Regions from separate parts of the Homo sapiens genome. Here region 2 is linked to region 1. A link means that fine-mapping ties the variant in region 1 to the expression of a gene that starts in the linked region. Tissue or cell type: whole blood. Region 1 holds a variant in brackets; the other region holds the start of a gene. All regions are shown on one strand. Distances are between the middles of the regions.

Evidence for each region. PIP is the estimated chance that this variant, and not a neighbour inherited with it, causes the effect.
Region 2: OAZ1 starts here. The variant in region 1 is fine-mapped to the expression of OAZ1 in whole blood (INTERVAL, PIP above 0.99).

Annotation. Positions count from the first base shown.
Region 1 is chr19:2,288,223-2,296,279 of GRCh38, reverse strand. It overlaps LINGO3 (leucine rich repeat and Ig domain containing 3), which reads left to right. Exons shown (of 2, transcript NM_001101391.3): 2 at 4,458-8,057. The coding sequence starts at 4,504. The coding sequence ends at 6,282. Among named protein-coding and RNA genes, the nearest start is that of PEAK3, 10 kb to the right of the region's middle. RefSeq lists silencers at 5,715-5,784, 6,245-6,354. The variant A/G (reference allele first, on the strand shown) is at 3,837.
Region 2 is chr19:2,264,963-2,273,019 of GRCh38, reverse strand. It overlaps OAZ1 (ornithine decarboxylase antizyme 1), which reads right to left and starts at 3,534. Exons shown (of 5, transcript NM_004152.3): 1 at 3,276-3,534; 2 at 1,490-1,635; 3 at 1,066-1,238; 4 at 200-285; 5 at 1-48. The coding sequence starts at 3,421. It overlaps LOC105372240 (a long non-coding RNA gene), which reads left to right and starts at 3,767. Exons shown (of 2, transcript XR_936242.3): 1 at 3,767-3,918; 2 at 4,148-4,527. RefSeq lists silencers at 4-153, 1,693-2,032, 2,043-2,242, 2,453-2,512, 3,478-3,967 and enhancers at 354-413, 424-483, 3,221-3,835, 6,331-6,500.

The sequences.
Region 1 (8,057 bases):
TCACCAGTGGTTTTGTAAACACTGTGGAGCGGACAGTAAGGGGGGAGGTGCAGGGTCGGGGGGCAGATAAAAGTGCCATCACCGCCCTAGCACTCTTGTCCCCTCCCGTGACACAGCCCCTGAGTGTGCTGTCGGCAGGGCAGCAGCTCGGGAGAGAATGACCCAGAAAAACAGTGCTGGGAGGGAGCTTGCTGGGAGGGAAGGATTGCCTTCCCTGTAACATGCCCAGGTTGGGATTAAGGATGATTCCGGGGTTGGGGGGGGCATGCCCCCTCTCTCGCTCCCTCCCTTCCTCCCTCCCTCGAGTTTCCTATGTTCCCAAGCTGGGGGCAGGAGGACCAAGGCCTCCTGGGAACCAGGGGCCCCTCGCTTTTCTCTCGGTGGGACCACATTCTCACCTGCGACACCTTCCTTTCCACCACACTCTGTGCTGTTCCACGTGGCATGTGAATGCCCAGTTTTGGCATCTGTACATATGTGTCCTGTCCACCTAAATCCAGAATTCAGTTTGGCGTTTCACCTTATTTATTTATGTATTTATTGAGACGGAGTTTCCCCTCTTGTCGCCCAGGCTGGAGTGCAGTGGCACAATCTCGGCTCACTGCCACCTCCGCCTGCCAGGTTCAAGCGATTCTCCTCCCTCAGCCTCACAAGGAGCTGGGATTACAGGCGCCCATCACCACGCCCGGCTAGTTTTTGTATTTTTTAGTAGAGACAGGGTTTCTCCATGTTGCTTAGGCTGCTCTCGAACTCCTGACCTCAAGTGATCCACCCGCCTCAGCCTCCCGAAGTGCTGGGATGACAGGCGTGAGCCACCGCGCCGGGCAAGAGGAGCTGCTGCTCTCACAGTTCTGGAGTCTGGAAGTCGAAGCTCAAGCAGGTCCAGCTTCCTTTGGGGGCTTTTGGGGAGACCCTTTCTGACTCTTCCAGCTTCCGGTGGTAGCTGGCCATCCCTGGTGTCACTTGACTTGTGGATGAATCACTCCAGTCTCTGCCTGTGTTGTGACTTGGCCGTTGCCTGTGTCTCTGTGTCCAGATTTCCCTCTTATAAGGATGCCAGTCATTGAATTAGGGCTCTCCCTGCTCCTGCGTGACCTCATCTTAATGAATTACAGCTGCAAGATACAAACCCTGTCCTCACTTACGTACAATTCATCTCTGACATGAAGCAGTCTCCCGGGGCTCCGCGTCTGTTCGCTCTGGGATTAAATTCGCGTAGGCACTGGGGAGGCGGGAGCTGCCTTCGCAGATATTTAGCAAATGAGGATCGAAGGCCAGTGGGAACCGTGAGGAGACGCACAACCTGGTTTGGGCCACGGGGCCTGGGGGGATGCCGAGGGGGGCTCAGCTGCCAAGATGCCAAAAATAGCCGGCCGGCTGGCGGGGGAGGCGGCCAAGCAGAAGAAGCTGGGCAATGCCGCCTGGTAGTTCTGGCTGCTTCCTCCCGCTCCCTCCAACCCCACCTCCACCCGCCACCCCAGCCCCCAGAATCTTGGCTGCAGCCAAGAAGAGCTGGTAAGGGTGCAGCAGGCTCCCAGGAGAGACGGAAACAGCCCAGGAGGCACAGCTACCAGGACCCACGGAGCATTGGCGCCTGTTCCTCTGGGCCACCACGGCTCCATGTCATCTGCCCCCCACCCAGAGGCCCCTCCTAACCCAGCTCCCCGCCCCCCTCCACTCTCTCCTTTAGCTTCACCAGACTCCCGCCACACCTCGGGGCCTCTGCCGTGGCTGTTCCCCCAGCCCACACACCCTTCCTCCAGAAAACCATGGGCTCTGTTCAACTTTTGGGTCGGCCTGTTTCCTGCCAGAACACGGCGCCACAAACCCCGGGGGGTTTAAAACAACCGAAATATATGCCTTCCCAGCTCCGGAGGCGGAAGTCCAAAATCAAGGTGTCCGCAGGGCCGGGGGCCCTCTGGAAGCTCCCGGGGCGCGTCCTTCCTGCCTCTCCCGGCTTCCTGGGGCTCTCAGCAATCCCCGGCTTGTGGCTGTGTCACCCTAGCCTCTGCCTCCGTGTTCACACGGCTCTATTTCCCCTGTATAGGGCTAGGTGTGTGTCCAAGTCTCCCTCTTGTTGTAAGGACAGGAGTCGTTGGAAAAGGCTCACTGTAATCCACTGCAGTCTCATCTAGCCCTGAGCACATCTGTAAAGACCCTGATTCCAAATGAGGTCCCGTGCACAGCAGGCACGGAGGGCAGGACGTGAACATACCTTTTTTTTTCCCTTGAGACAGTCTCACTCTGTTGCCCAGTGGCTAGAGCGCAGTGGCACGATCACAGCTCACTGAAGCCTCAACTCCTGGGATCAAGCGATCCTCCCACCCCAGATTCCCCTAGTTAGGACTATAGATGCGCGCCACCACGCCAGGCTAACTTTTGTATTTTTAGTTGAGACGGGGGTTCCCCATGTTGCCCAGGCTGGTCTCGAACTCCTGACCTCAGGTGATCCACCCACCTCGGCCTCCCAAAATGCTGGATTTACAGGCGTGAGCCACCGCGCCCGGCCTTGAACATTTGCGGGAACACAGTTCCACCTACAACAGGGTCTGAGATCAAATGTCATCTCCCTGTCTGTGGATGGGCCTGTCCTGGACATTTCATAGAAATGAGATCACACGGACGGGCGCGGTGGCTCACACCTGTAATCCCAGCACTTTGGGAGGCCAAGGCCGGTGGATTACCCGAGGTCAGGAGTTCAAGACCAGCCTGGCCAACATGGCAAAACCCCATCTGTACTAAAACTACAAAAATTAGCTGGGCATGGTGGCGGGTGCCTGTAGTCCCAGCTACTCAGGAGGCTGAGGCAGGAGAATCACTTAAACCCTGGGGAGGGGGAGCTTGCAGTGAGCTGAGATCGCACCACTGCATTCCAGCCTGGGCCAGAGTGAGACTCTGTCTCCAAAAAAAAAAAAAGGCCAGGCGCGGTGGCTCACTCCTGTAATCCCAGCACTTTGGGAGGCCAAGGAGGGTGGATCACGAGGTCAGGAGATCGAGACCATCCTGGCTAACACGGTGAAATCCCGTCTCTACTAAAAACACAAAAAATTAGCCAGGCGTGGTGGCTGGCACCTGTAGCCCCAGTTACTCGGGAGGCTGAGGCAGGAGAATGGCGTGAACCCGGGAGGCAGAGCTTGCAGTGAGGTGAGATTGTGCCACCGCACTCCAGCCTGGGTGACAGAGCAAGACTCCGTCTCAAAAAGAAAGAAAGAAAGAAACGGGGTCATACAGTGTGGCCTTTTGTGTCGCGTCTCTCACTGAGCATGGCGTCCTCAAGGTGCATCCCCACCGTGGCCTGGGTCAGAGCCTCACTCCTTTTCATGGCTGAGTCGTGTTCGTGTGTGGGTGGCTGCACGGTGCTGACCCATCCATTCCTTGGGGCACATTCCAGCCTTTTCCACTGTTTGGCTGTTACAGATGCGGCTGTGAATGTTCCCAGGTTTTCCGTGCGCTGTGTGTTCCATTCTCTTATGCAAAGACACCCAGGAGCGGGTGGGCGCGGTGGCTCACACCTGTAATCCCAGCACTTTGGGAGGCGGAGGCAGGTGGATCACCTGAGGTCAGGAGTTTGAGACCAACCTGGCCAATATGGTAAAACCCCGTCTCTACTAAAAATACAAAAATTAGCCGGACGTGGTGGCGGGCACCTGTAATCCCAGCTACTCAGGAGGCTGAGGCAGGAGAATTGCTTGAACCCGGGAGGTGGAGGTTTCAGTGAGCCGAGATCAAGCCACTGCACTCCAGCCTGGATGACAGAGTGAGCCTCCATCTCAAACAGACAAACAAACACAAACAAAACAAAACAAAAAAACCCAGGAGATTGGAATTGCAGCCAC[A/G]CGGTGGATCAATGCTGCTTTTTTTTTTTTTTTTTTTTTTTTTTGAGACAGGGTTTTTTGCTCTATCTCCCAGGCTGGAGTGCAGTGGCACGATCACAGCTCACTGTGGCCTCAACCCCCTGGGCTCAAGCAATCCTCCTGGCTCAGCCTCCTGAGTAGCTGGGACCACAGGTGCAGGCCACCATGCCTGGGTAAACTTTTCAATATTTCACAATTACTTGAAAACCAGCTAATTTTTAATTTTTTTTTTTTTAAGAGACAGGGGTCTCACCGTGTTGCCCAGGCTGGAGTGCAGTGGCACAAGCATATCTCACTGCAGCCTCCACCTCCTGGGCCCAAGCCATCCTCCTGCCTCAGCCTCCTGAGTAGCTGGGACCACAGGCCTACACCACCACATGCGGCTCATCTTTTATTTTTTTGTAGAGATGGGAGTCTTGCTATGTTGTGCAGGCTGGTCTCGAACTCTTGAACTCAAGCAATTCTTCCATCTCAGCCTCCCAAAATGCTGGGTTTACAGGAGCGAGCCGCCGTGCTGGGACGGGTTAGGGGCGGGCTGGCGGCAGAGGCGCCGCGGAGGGGTGCTAACGGTGCTAACGCTGCCCGCTCCCCGCCCGCCCGCAGGTGCGCAGGAGGATGGTGGCGCGGCCCTAGGCCCACGCTCCGCACCATGACCTGCTGGCTGTGCGTCCTGAGCCTGCCCCTGCTCCTGCTGCCCGCGGCGCCGCCCCCGGCTGGAGGCTGCCCGGCCCGCTGCGAGTGCACCGTGCAGACCCGCGCGGTGGCCTGCACGCGCCGCCGCCTGACCGCCGTGCCCGACGGCATCCCGGCCGAGACCCGCCTGCTGGAGCTCAGCCGCAACCGCATCCGCTGCCTGAACCCGGGCGACCTGGCCGCGCTGCCCGCGCTGGAGGAGCTGGACCTGAGCGAGAACGCCATCGCGCACGTGGAGCCCGGCGCCTTCGCCAACCTGCCGCGCCTGCGCGTCCTGCGTCTCCGTGGCAACCAGCTGAAGCTCATCCCGCCCGGGGTCTTCACGCGCCTGGACAACCTCACGCTGCTGGACCTGAGCGAGAACAAGCTGGTAATCCTGCTGGACTACACTTTCCAGGACCTGCACAGCCTGCGCCGGCTGGAAGTGGGCGACAACGACCTGGTATTCGTCTCGCGCCGCGCCTTCGCGGGGCTGCTGGCCCTGGAGGAGCTGACCCTGGAGCGCTGCAACCTCACGGCTCTGTCCGGGGAGTCGCTGGGCCATCTGCGCAGCCTGGGCGCCCTGCGGCTGCGCCACCTGGCCATCGCCTCCCTGGAGGACCAGAACTTCCGCAGGCTGCCCGGGCTGCTGCACCTGGAGATTGACAACTGGCCGCTGCTGGAGGAGGTGGCGGCGGGCAGCCTGCGGGGCCTGAACCTGACCTCGCTGTCGGTCACCCACACCAACATCACCGCCGTGCCGGCCGCCGCGCTGCGGCACCAGGCGCACCTCACCTGCCTCAATCTGTCGCACAACCCCATCAGCACGGTGCCGCGGGGGTCGTTCCGGGACCTGGTCCGCCTGCGCGAGCTGCACCTGGCCGGGGCCCTGCTGGCTGTGGTGGAGCCGCAGGCCTTCCTGGGCCTGCGCCAGATCCGCCTGCTCAACCTCTCCAACAACCTGCTCTCCACGTTGGAGGAGAGCACCTTCCACTCGGTGAACACGCTAGAGACGCTGCGCGTGGACGGGAACCCGCTGGCCTGCGACTGTCGCCTGCTGTGGATCGTGCAGCGTCGCAAGACCCTCAACTTCGACGGGCGGCTGCCGGCCTGCGCCACCCCGGCCGAGGTGCGCGGCGACGCGCTGCGAAACCTGCCGGACTCCGTGCTGTTCGAGTACTTCGTGTGCCGCAAACCCAAGATCCGGGAGCGGCGGCTGCAGCGCGTCACGGCCACCGCGGGCGAAGACGTCCGCTTCCTCTGCCGCGCCGAGGGCGAGCCGGCGCCCACCGTGGCCTGGGTGACCCCCCAGCACCGGCCGGTGACGGCCACCAGCGCGGGCCGGGCGCGCGTGCTCCCCGGGGGGACGCTGGAGATCCAGGACGCGCGGCCGCAGGACAGCGGCACCTACACGTGCGTGGCCAGCAACGCGGGCGGCAACGACACCTACTTCGCCACGCTGACCGTGCGCCCCGAGCCGGCCGCCAACCGGACCCCGGGCGAGGCCCACAACGAGACGCTGGCGGCCCTGCGCGCGCCGCTCGACCTCACCACCATCCTGGTGTCCACCGCCATGGGCTGCATCACCTTCCTGGGCGTGGTCCTCTTCTGCTTCGTGCTGCTGTTCGTGTGGAGCCGCGGCCGCGGGCAGCACAAAAACAACTTCTCGGTGGAGTACTCCTTCCGCAAGGTGGATGGGCCGGCCGCCGCGGCGGGCCAGGGAGGCGCGCGCAAGTTCAACATGAAGATGATCTGAGGGGTCCCCAGGGCGGACCCTCCCCTCCCCTCCCCCGCGGGCCGGCCGCTCGCGTGTCCACCTATGCATTTCCCGGAGGGGAAGGGGACGGCTGCACGGCGCTCCCCAGGCAGAACTTCCCCTTTTTTTGTAGACGCCCAACCGCAGGACTGTTTTTCATCAGCATGCGTCTTTTTTGCAGTTTCTCAAGCGTTTTCTAAAGATTTCAACCCGTCTTCCTGTCCCTGCTATGGTGGCTGAGCTGGGGGGTGGGGGTGCGGGCTGCAAGGATGGGGGGATGGGCTCCCGTCTACCAACCCGGGGTGGCTGGGGGCGCTCAGAGACCCCAGGATCCTCAGGGCCCGCAATTCACACCCAGGAGGCACAAGACTGCTGCCCCCAAGCCCTGGGCTTCCGCTCCCCCAGCCCTTTGTACACAGATCGCATCGGGGAGACGGTGGACACCCGGGTCCCACAAAGGGCCCCACAGCCCCAAGGGGAGGGTGCGCAGAAAGTCTGCATTGCTCACACCTGGCCGTCCTACACCTCACACCCAGAGACACACTCACACCTGGAACCCAATCACACAGGTGCAACACACCTCACACCCAGCCGACACTAAAACCAGACCCGGGGCACCAGAGCTGACCGCAGGGGGCAGGCAGGGCTCTCGTGAGAGCAAAGCTCACACCCGGGACAGGCGCAACTCACACCCGGGACACACAGCTCACACCCAGGACACACACAGCTCACACCCAGAACACACAGCTCACACCCGGGACACACAGCTTACACCCGGGAAACACAGCTCACACCCGGGACACACAGCTCACACCCGGAACACAGAGCTCACACCCGGGACACACAGCTCATACGCAGGACACACTCAGCTCACACCTGATACAAGGACAGCTCACAGTGGAACACACAGCTCACACCCGGGATACAGCTCACACCCAGGACACACTCAGCTCACACTGGAACACACAGCTCACACCCAGAACACAGAACTCACATCTGGGACACACACAGCTCACACCCGAGACACACACCCTCACACCCAGCTGACACTAAAACCAAGCCCTGGGCACCAGAGCTGACCACAGAGGCAGGCAGGGCTCTCGTGAGAGCACAGCTCACACCAGGGACATGCTCAGTTCACACCTGGGACAGGCACAACGCATAACTGAGACACAGCTCACACCTGGGACACAGAGCCCACCCCAGCGCCTGCTCAGCTGAGCATCTCCCAGCCGACCTCGGGGCCTGGGCTCAGGTCTTGCTGAGGACCCAGCACACACGGTGGTCACAGTCAGGGGTCCACACGCCCTGTCCTCCGTCCTCCCCACAGCCCAGCAGGGCTGTCCACAAGAAGGAGCCATCACCCCAGCCCTCCGCCTCCCTCCGCTGCCACGTGCTTCCCAGAACAGCAGGCAAGAGAGGGCCACCCCACAAGGGAGAGGTGGCCACCCTGCCCCGGCCCAGAACCATGGCTTCTGGGGTGCTGAGTGTCCTTCCAAATGGGTCTACTGGAGGGACTTTTGCCCCTAGGTACACATGACCTCTGAGCCGGCCTCAGACAAGCCCTGAGCGTGGCCCCATCATGGCCGGCCCTGCTGACCCGTGGCTCAGGTGGGGAACGAGACCAAAGAGCACAGGGGGTTCCCGGGGATCCCGGCTACGTGCGGTGCAGTGTAGTGACAAGAACAAGGCCGGAACAAGGGCTTCACCCTGCAGGGAGGCCTGGACCCGGGTCCTCGGGAGAAGGTGATGGAGGAAGCTGGGTCTCTGCACCT
Region 2 (8,057 bases), 23 kb after region 1:
GTCTCACAATCTCAAAGCCCAAAAAGCTGAAGGTTCGGAGCAAGGCGGCTGCGGGGGAGAAGCCGTCAGAACCCCTGCCGACCAGAACCCCCCGCCCGCACCCCCCACCCCCGCAGGGAGACCGTGCCTGCGGGCTGAGAATGAAGGGGCGGCGCAGGCACCCCCACGCACCCTACTGCAGGCGATACGGGTCACCTACCTCTGTCCTCGCGGTTCTTGTGGAAGCAAATGAAGACATGGTCGGCTCGCAGCTGCTCCTCAGCGAACTCCAGGAGAACTGCAAAGCTGCAGCGAGTGTCAGCGTCTCGGCTGGCCCGACCCACCTGCCTACCTCCTGGGCCTTAGCAGCTACCCTGAGGCCCGCTCTACTCCAGGGTCCCCCTGGGGCCCAGATCGTCCTCTGGGTGGGGCCGTCCTGACACCACAGTGTTGAGCAGCACCGCTGCACCCACCCACGTGCATGCCCCATGACAGAAAAGCTCTGACACTGCCTGGCATCCCTTGGAGGGTAGAATCCCAGGGTACGAATTTGGAGTGCACTTTTTAAAAAGGGACCCCAGGCCGGGAGCGGTAGCTCACGCCTGTAATCCCAGCACTTTGGGAGGCCGAGGTGGGCGGATCACGAGGTCAGGAGTTCAAGACCAGCCTGGCCAACATAGCGAAACCTCGTCTCTACTAAAAACACAAAAATTAGCTGGGCATCGGTGGCGGGCGCCTGTAAGCCCAGCTACTCGGGAGGCTGAGGCAGGAGAATCGCTTGAACCCGGAAGGCAGAGGTTGCAGTGAGCCAAGATCATGCCACTGCACTCCAGCCTGGGCAACAAAAGCAAGACTCCATCTCAAAAAAAAAAAAAAGGGGGGACCCTGTCCCCACCAACAAAGCGATGGTGGCCCCCATATGTGCTGCCTGAAGGCAGTGCCCTCCCTCATCTGTCCCTGCACCCCTTGGGCAGCAACCCGCACCTGGTCCCTGCTCCCCTGGGTGAGCACTCCCCGCCTGTCCTTGCCCCTCACCTGGTCCCTGCTCCCCTGGGTGAGCACTCCCTGCCTGTCCTTGCCCCTCACCTGTCCTTGCTCCCCTCGGGCAGCGCGCCGCCCGGGATCTCGATGTAGAGGCTGCCGCCACTCAGCACTGTTCGCCAGTTAATGCGTTTGGCGTCTGTGAGCCTGGACTGGACGTTGAGAATCCTCGTCTTGTCGTTGGACGTTAGTTCCTCTGTTACATTCAGCCGATCATCCTGTCCAGGGGGTGCAGCCCAATTCAGAACCCTGACTCACCCCACAGGACTCCAAGAACCCGGCAGCGCTAAAGCTTGGGCCTAGGCCGTGTTGAGCTCAGGCAACGCCTGGGCTGCAGGAGACTGTGCGCCGGCTCTGATGAAACTCAGGGTTCCCACGATTACATTCAATCACAGGTACGGGCAGCAAGGTGCACAAGAAAGTACCTGTGGCCCCAGAGCAGCCCCAGCAGGCCCGGCCCCATACTCACGGAGTAGAATAAGTTAGCTGAAAGATTGTGATCCCTCTGACTATTCCCTCGCCCACCTGGGATCTTCAGGGGTGGGTGAGGGGCATCAGGAGCACCACCGAGGCCCCGGACCCGGGTTACTACAGCAGTGGAGGGAGACCCTGGAACTGAAGATGATGCAGGTCACGAGGCAGCGCCAGGCTCCGGGCGGAGACCCCTCCAGGGCGTCCGGGCGGCCTTCAGCACATCCCCACCCCTGCCTCGGCCAAAAGACCCCGCCCCGCCCAGGCAGGGGCCCACCCGGTCCCACACCCCCGAGGCTTCCCGAAGGCAGCTCCAACGCCTGCCCCAAGCACCTACAAGGGCAGCAGTCACTGAGCCCCGACTCCTCGGGCGGCGCCGCCCAGGACAGCCCAACCTTCCCAGGGCGGGGGGCCCCTTCCCCTCACGCAGCCCCGCCGGGGCAGAGCCTCACCCCCCGGCCACCAAGACAGCCAGCGCTTCCCCTTTTCAGTTCTGTCGCGGCTTCCCCTTTCCACCCTGCACTACGGCCAAAATCTGGGACTCTTGCTTGTCCCCGCGAAGACCGGGCGGGCCTAGCCTGACCTCATGGAGGACGCGCCCCGCTCCGGCTCCCGGCCGCCCGCCCCCCCGCCCCCGCTCCAGGCCCGGGCCCTCCCGGTTGCGTCATCCAGGCAGACGCGGCCTCGCGCCCCGGGGGAGATTTTCACAATCGCGCAGCCGGCAGCGCCAGCAGCCATTTGCTGCGCAGGGTAAACAGGCCCCAAAGTTGCCTCCATTTTGCACGGCCCCCAAACCGCGGCACCGCCAGCACCGCGGCCCAACCTCCCGATCCGGGGCTGAGCGACGCCCACCTCGGGGGACGCAGTCGGGAAAGCTCGACCGAGACCCCGCGGGCTCCCCCACAACCGCAGCTGGCACCCGCGCCCCCGGAAGCGGGACGCGTCTTCCCGGGAAGCGGCGGGGGTCTTCCCAGGGCGCTGCCGGGCTGTCGGAGTGCGCCACCCCCAGCTCCCCGGCGGCCCCCGCGGAGAAGCCCTGGGTGCCGTCTACGTGCGCGGCCTCGCCCGGCGCGTCCCGGGCCATCCAGACCGACTCGCTCAGGGGCGAAAAACGGGGCCCACGAGGTCCGTCGCGTGCAGGGGCCACATCGAGGCAACAGGGACCCGCGGGAGCTCGTCCACCGCAAAGCGCTCCCCGCTCCCGCAGCGCACGCTCGACGGCCGGGACCGAAAAGTGCAGATTCACCAGCCCCGCGGGCCCTGCCTGTCCGCGGACCAGCCCCCCAAGGCCGACCCCGCCCCCAACCAGATTGCCCCATCCTGCGCCTCCCAAATCCGACCCGACCGCACACCCTTCCTCCAAACCGAATTCCCAGTCTGCGCCCCGCAAATCCAACCCTCGACCAGAAGCCTCTCCCCTCCTCCGAAGCCGAGTCCCATCCCGCGAACCCCGCAAAAGACACACGCCTCCCCCGACTCCCCGTCCTGCGCCCAAATCCGACCTCCGACCCATGCCCCTCCCGCAAATCAGGCGCCCCGGACGGTGCCCCCCAAATCCAACTCCGCACCCTTGCCCCCCAAACCCGACTCCCCCGAGAGCACTGCTAAGGCCGGGGGGGACCTCCAGGCCCGCCCTGCGCCTACCTCGTCCCCGGCGCGATTCTGGCCTTGACAAAGGGGCGGATCTCGCGCGCCGGGGACCTATCTGGCGCCCCGAGGACGGCCCCCCGCAGGCCTGCGCGGCCGGCGCTTCTGGAAGCTTCGGACGGGGGCGGGGCACTTACCTCTCACTGCTGCTGCCGCCGCGGCTGTGCAGGCTTAGGAGCGGCATGGTGCGGCTGGCGTGGATGGTGGCGCTGGGTTTATCCCCTTCCTTCTCTCTGGCGAAGCAGTGGCTATTGAGGATCCGCTGCAGGGAGGATTTCACCATCCGGCCGCTGGGGTCCGAAACCAGGAAAACCTCCGCTGCGTCTCTCCGCGCCGCCGCCGCTGCTCGCCGTTCGCAAAATGGCGCCTCTGCCGCCGCCCGCCTTTATAGATGCTGCGCCCAGGCCACGCCCCCCGCGCCGCCGGGAACGCGACCGCACGAGGGGCAGAGCCGCGGGGCCGCCGGGAAAAAAAGTCGCGCCCGCCCCTCCCAGCGCCTGATTGGTGAAAGGGAAAGGGAAAGGAAGAGGCTCTCTGGAGATTGGTTGGTGAGCCTCGGGCCACGCCCCCTCCTGCGCGCGTCCTTCTGGGGGCGGGGCTGCCGTGGCGCCGGGTACGCGCTGCGCGCGCCCCGAGCCGTCCCCGCCCCCACAATCGTGCCTTGGGGGCGGGGGCGGCTCGCTGGGGCCGATTTTCGGGGGTCTTCGAGTGCCCGTTTGTCTGTCGTGGTCCACGTCGCCCTCCCTAGGGTCCCTTCACGCAGCGGGACCCCTCCCCTGGGTAGGCCCCCGGGTGCTTGGGGGGTTGTCCAACCGCGCCAGAATTATTTCCAGTAACACCTGGTAATCATCGATGATATTACTGGTTTTATTTTTTTAAATTTGGTCTTGCAGTTCTTAAAATGCTTCCAGTGTTTAAAAAAAAAGAACTTCCAATGTTAAAGATATTCAAATTTAGTAAAATATTTCGTGTACAATTTGGACTTAAGCAAAAATTTTACTCCTTGCAGATAAATTCAGATTTTTCCTGTGGAAACTGAAACTTACCCTAAGGAAAAACACTACTCCTGGCAGTTAAAATTCAGAAACACATCTCATGTATGAACTAAAATGTGGATCTCCCAAGGAAAAAACGATTTCTTTGGTGGTCAAGTTCGGTAAACTGTTTCGCCTGTGAGGTAAAATGTGGACTTACCTAGCAAAAATATTTCCCCTCCTGGTTAAATCCAGAAAAAAAATCTCAGGTATGAACTGCACTTTGCTTTTAATAAGCAAAGATATAACTCTTGGCAGTCACATACGGGTACATAGCTTGTGTGTAGACTAAATTATGAATTTAGCAAAAAGTTGCCACTTTGCAGTGAGGTTTAATAAAATATTTTTTATTTCATGTATAAACAAAATTTTGTTCTTACCAAGCAAAAATGCTACTCCTGGCAAATCCTGATTCCTTTCATGGTTTTAATTTTGTTTTGTTTGCGACCGGGCCTGGCTGTCACCCAGGCTGGAGTGCAGTGGCGCAATCTCGGCTCGCTGCAACCTCCGCCTCCCAGGTTCAAGCGATTCTCCTGCTTCAGCCTCCTGAGGAGCTGGGATTACAGGTGCCCGCCACCACGCCCGGCTAATTTTTGTATTTTTAGTAGAGATGGGGTTTCACCATGTTGGCAAGGCTGGTCTGGAACTCCTGACCTCAGGTGATCCGCCTGCCTCGACCTCCCAAAGTTTGGGGATTAACAGGCGTGAGCCACCGCGCCTGCCTGTCTTTCGAGATTTCGTACTGCACCAGAAGGCTGTTGTTGCATCTCTGCTACGAGCATTCGCTATTCAGGTGTTGAGGCAGAAATTAACTCCTGCGGTTGACATTTGGGGCCGCCCTGGGCACTGCAGGGCGCTGAGCAGCGTCCCTGGCCTCCACCCACTCCATGCCTTGAGCACCCCCAGTTGTGACAACCACAAGTATCCGCAGACATCACCCAGTGTCCCTTGGCGGGGGCAGAATCACCCTGGGTGAGACTCCCGAGTTAGGGGATTCCACGGACCCCCCCAAGAGACTCTGCATCCCATGATCCTCTGCCCTGCTGAGGTCCCAGGAGACTGCGCACGTTGAAATCCACACCTTGAGGCAGAGGTTGCAGTGAGCTGAGATGGCGCCGCTGCACTCCAGCCTGGTGACAGAGCGAGACTCTGTCACAAAAAAAACAAAAAAAAAGCAATCCACACCCTGAGTGGGGAAGGAGAGAGGAGAAGCATCCCAGGAGCTGGGGGCCTCCTGGTTTATACCGTTTGCCCCATTAGGAGTTTATCCTGAGGCTGGGCACGGTGGCTCACGCCTGTAATCCCAGCACTTTGGGAGGCCGAGGCGGGTGGATCACGAGGTCAGGAGTGCAAGACCAGTCTGGCCAACATGGTGAAACCCCGTCTCTACTAAAAATACAAAAATTAGCTGGGCATGGTGGCGCGTGCCTGTAATCCCAGCTACTCAGGGGGCTGAGGCAGGAGAATTGCTTGAACTGGCACCCGGGAGGTGGAGGTTGCAGTGAGCCAAGATTGCACCACTACACTCCAGCCTGGGCTACAGAGCGAGACTCCATCTCAAAAAAAAGGAGTTTATTCTGGTGTCTGGTGTGAGCAGAGAACAGACTCTGTTTCAAATAATTAACTCAGGGTCTCCTCCCTCGGACCCGTGGACATTGGGCTTGGATTGTTCTCTGGGGTGGGGCATCCTGGGCAAATGGTATGAACCAGGAGGGCCCCAGCTCCTGGGATGCTTCTCCTCTCTCCTTCCCCACTCAGGGTGTGGATTGCTTTTTTTTTTGTTTTTTTGTTTTTTGAGACGGAGTCTCGCTCTGTTGCCAGGCTGGACTGCAGCGTCCTGGGCACTGCAGGGTACTGAGCAGCGTCCCTGGCCTCCACCCACTCCATGCCAGGAGCACTCCAAGTCATGACAACCAGAAATGTCCCAAACATCATCCAATGTCCCTTGGGGGCAGAATGACGCCCCTAAGTTGAGGACCTCCTCTGGGAACAGAGGCAAGAGCCTGCTCGAAATGAACAGGTCACCGGTGCGATTTCCAGAACAGCCACGACCAGGGAGCCCCATCCCTCCATCCTGACTGCAGCAGCTCTCACTTCCTCCTCCTGCCTGCCTCTGATGGCCGCCTGCCAATGCTGTGAGGCTTCTAGAAGGGCCACCCCCACACTGGCCAGGCCACGTGGGATGAGCGCTAGGATCAGCAACTGCGCCCTGCTGGCCCACCTGGCCGGGTTCCCCAGAAACTCCCCAGGGTGGGAGGTGCTTTGCTGGGAGCTGGGGAGTCTGTGACTGGTGAGGGGCCTCCCGGACAGCAGGGAGAGAAAGAGGCATATCTTTCTCTGGAGGTGGTGAGGCTTGAACTGTCTGAAAGGGACAGCAGAGGATGTGGGGTGGTCAAGGATAGAGGGCCCATGCCTGGGTTTTCTTCTGAAATCAAGGTTGAGGGGATACGGCTGCTGGCAGAGGACGCAGAGAGTATGACTCTGATTGATTGATTGATGGACTGATTTTTTTTTTTTTTTTTTGAGACAGAGTCTCACCTGTAGCCCAGGCTGGAGTGCAGTGGCGTAACCTTGGCTCACTGCAACCTCCACCTACAGGGTTCAAGCGATTCTCCTGCCTCAGCCTCCCGAGAAGCTGGGACTACAGGCGTGCACCACCATTCCCGGCTAATTTTTGTGTTTAGTGGAGACAGGGTTTCACCATATTGGCCAGGACGGTCTCAAACTCCTGACTTCATGATCTACGTGCCTCCCAAAGTGCTGGGATTACAGGTGTGCCACCGCACCTGGCTGTTTGGTTTTTGAGACAGAGTCTCACTTTGTCACCAGGCTGGAGTTCAGGGTCATGATCTCGGCGGCTCACTGCAACCTCCCCTTCCCAGGTTCAAGTGATTCTCCTGCCTCGGCCTCCCAAGTAGTTGGGAATTACAGGCTCACGCCACCAGGCCCAGTTAATTTTGGTATTTTTAGTAGAGACGGGATTTCACCATATTGGTCAGGCTGGTCTCGAACTCCTGAACTCAGGTGATCCACCCATCTCACCCTTCCAAAGTGCTGGGATTACAGGCGTGAGCCACCGCACCCGGCTGACTCTGATTTAAAAGAGGGTATGTGGGCCCGGTGTGCACTTTGGGAGGCAGAGGCAAGAGGATCGCTTGAGCTCAGGAGTTCAAGACCAGCCAGGGCTACATAGCCAGACCCCATCTCTGCAGCAAATTTAAAAATTAGGGACATGGTGGTGCACACCTGTAGTTCCAGCTACTCCAGCGGCTGAGGCAGGAGGATCCCCTGAGCCAGGAAGGTCAAGGCTGCAGTGAACTATGGTCTCTCAACTGCACTGCAGCCTGGGTGACAGAGGGAGACCTTGTCTCTAAAAGAATTATAATAATGAGTTAAATAAAATAAAATGTAAACAGGTAAAAATAAAGAAGGATTGGGGCCGCGCACAGTGGCTCACGCCTGTAATCCCAGCACTTTGGGAGGCTGAAGCAAGAAGATCGCTTGAGCCCAGGAGTTGCAGACCAGCCTGGCCAACATAGCAAGACCCTATCTCTAGGTTCTCACTTTGTTGAGAATTTTAAAAACTTCTAGAAATTTTAAAAAATTAAAAAAATTTTAATTAGCTGGGATTGGGTGGGCATCTGTGATCCCAGCTACTTGGGAGGCTGAACCAAGAGGATCACTTGAGCCCAGGAGGTCAAGGCTGCAGTGAGCTGTGATCACACCACTGCACTCCAGCCTGGGGGACAGAGCAAGACACTGTCTCAAAAAAAAATGAAAGCAAGCAGGAAAATGGCCAAGCGTGGTGGCTCACGCCTGTAATCCCAGCACTTTGAGAGGCCAAGGCAGGCGGATCACGAGGTCAGGAGATCGAGACCATCCTGG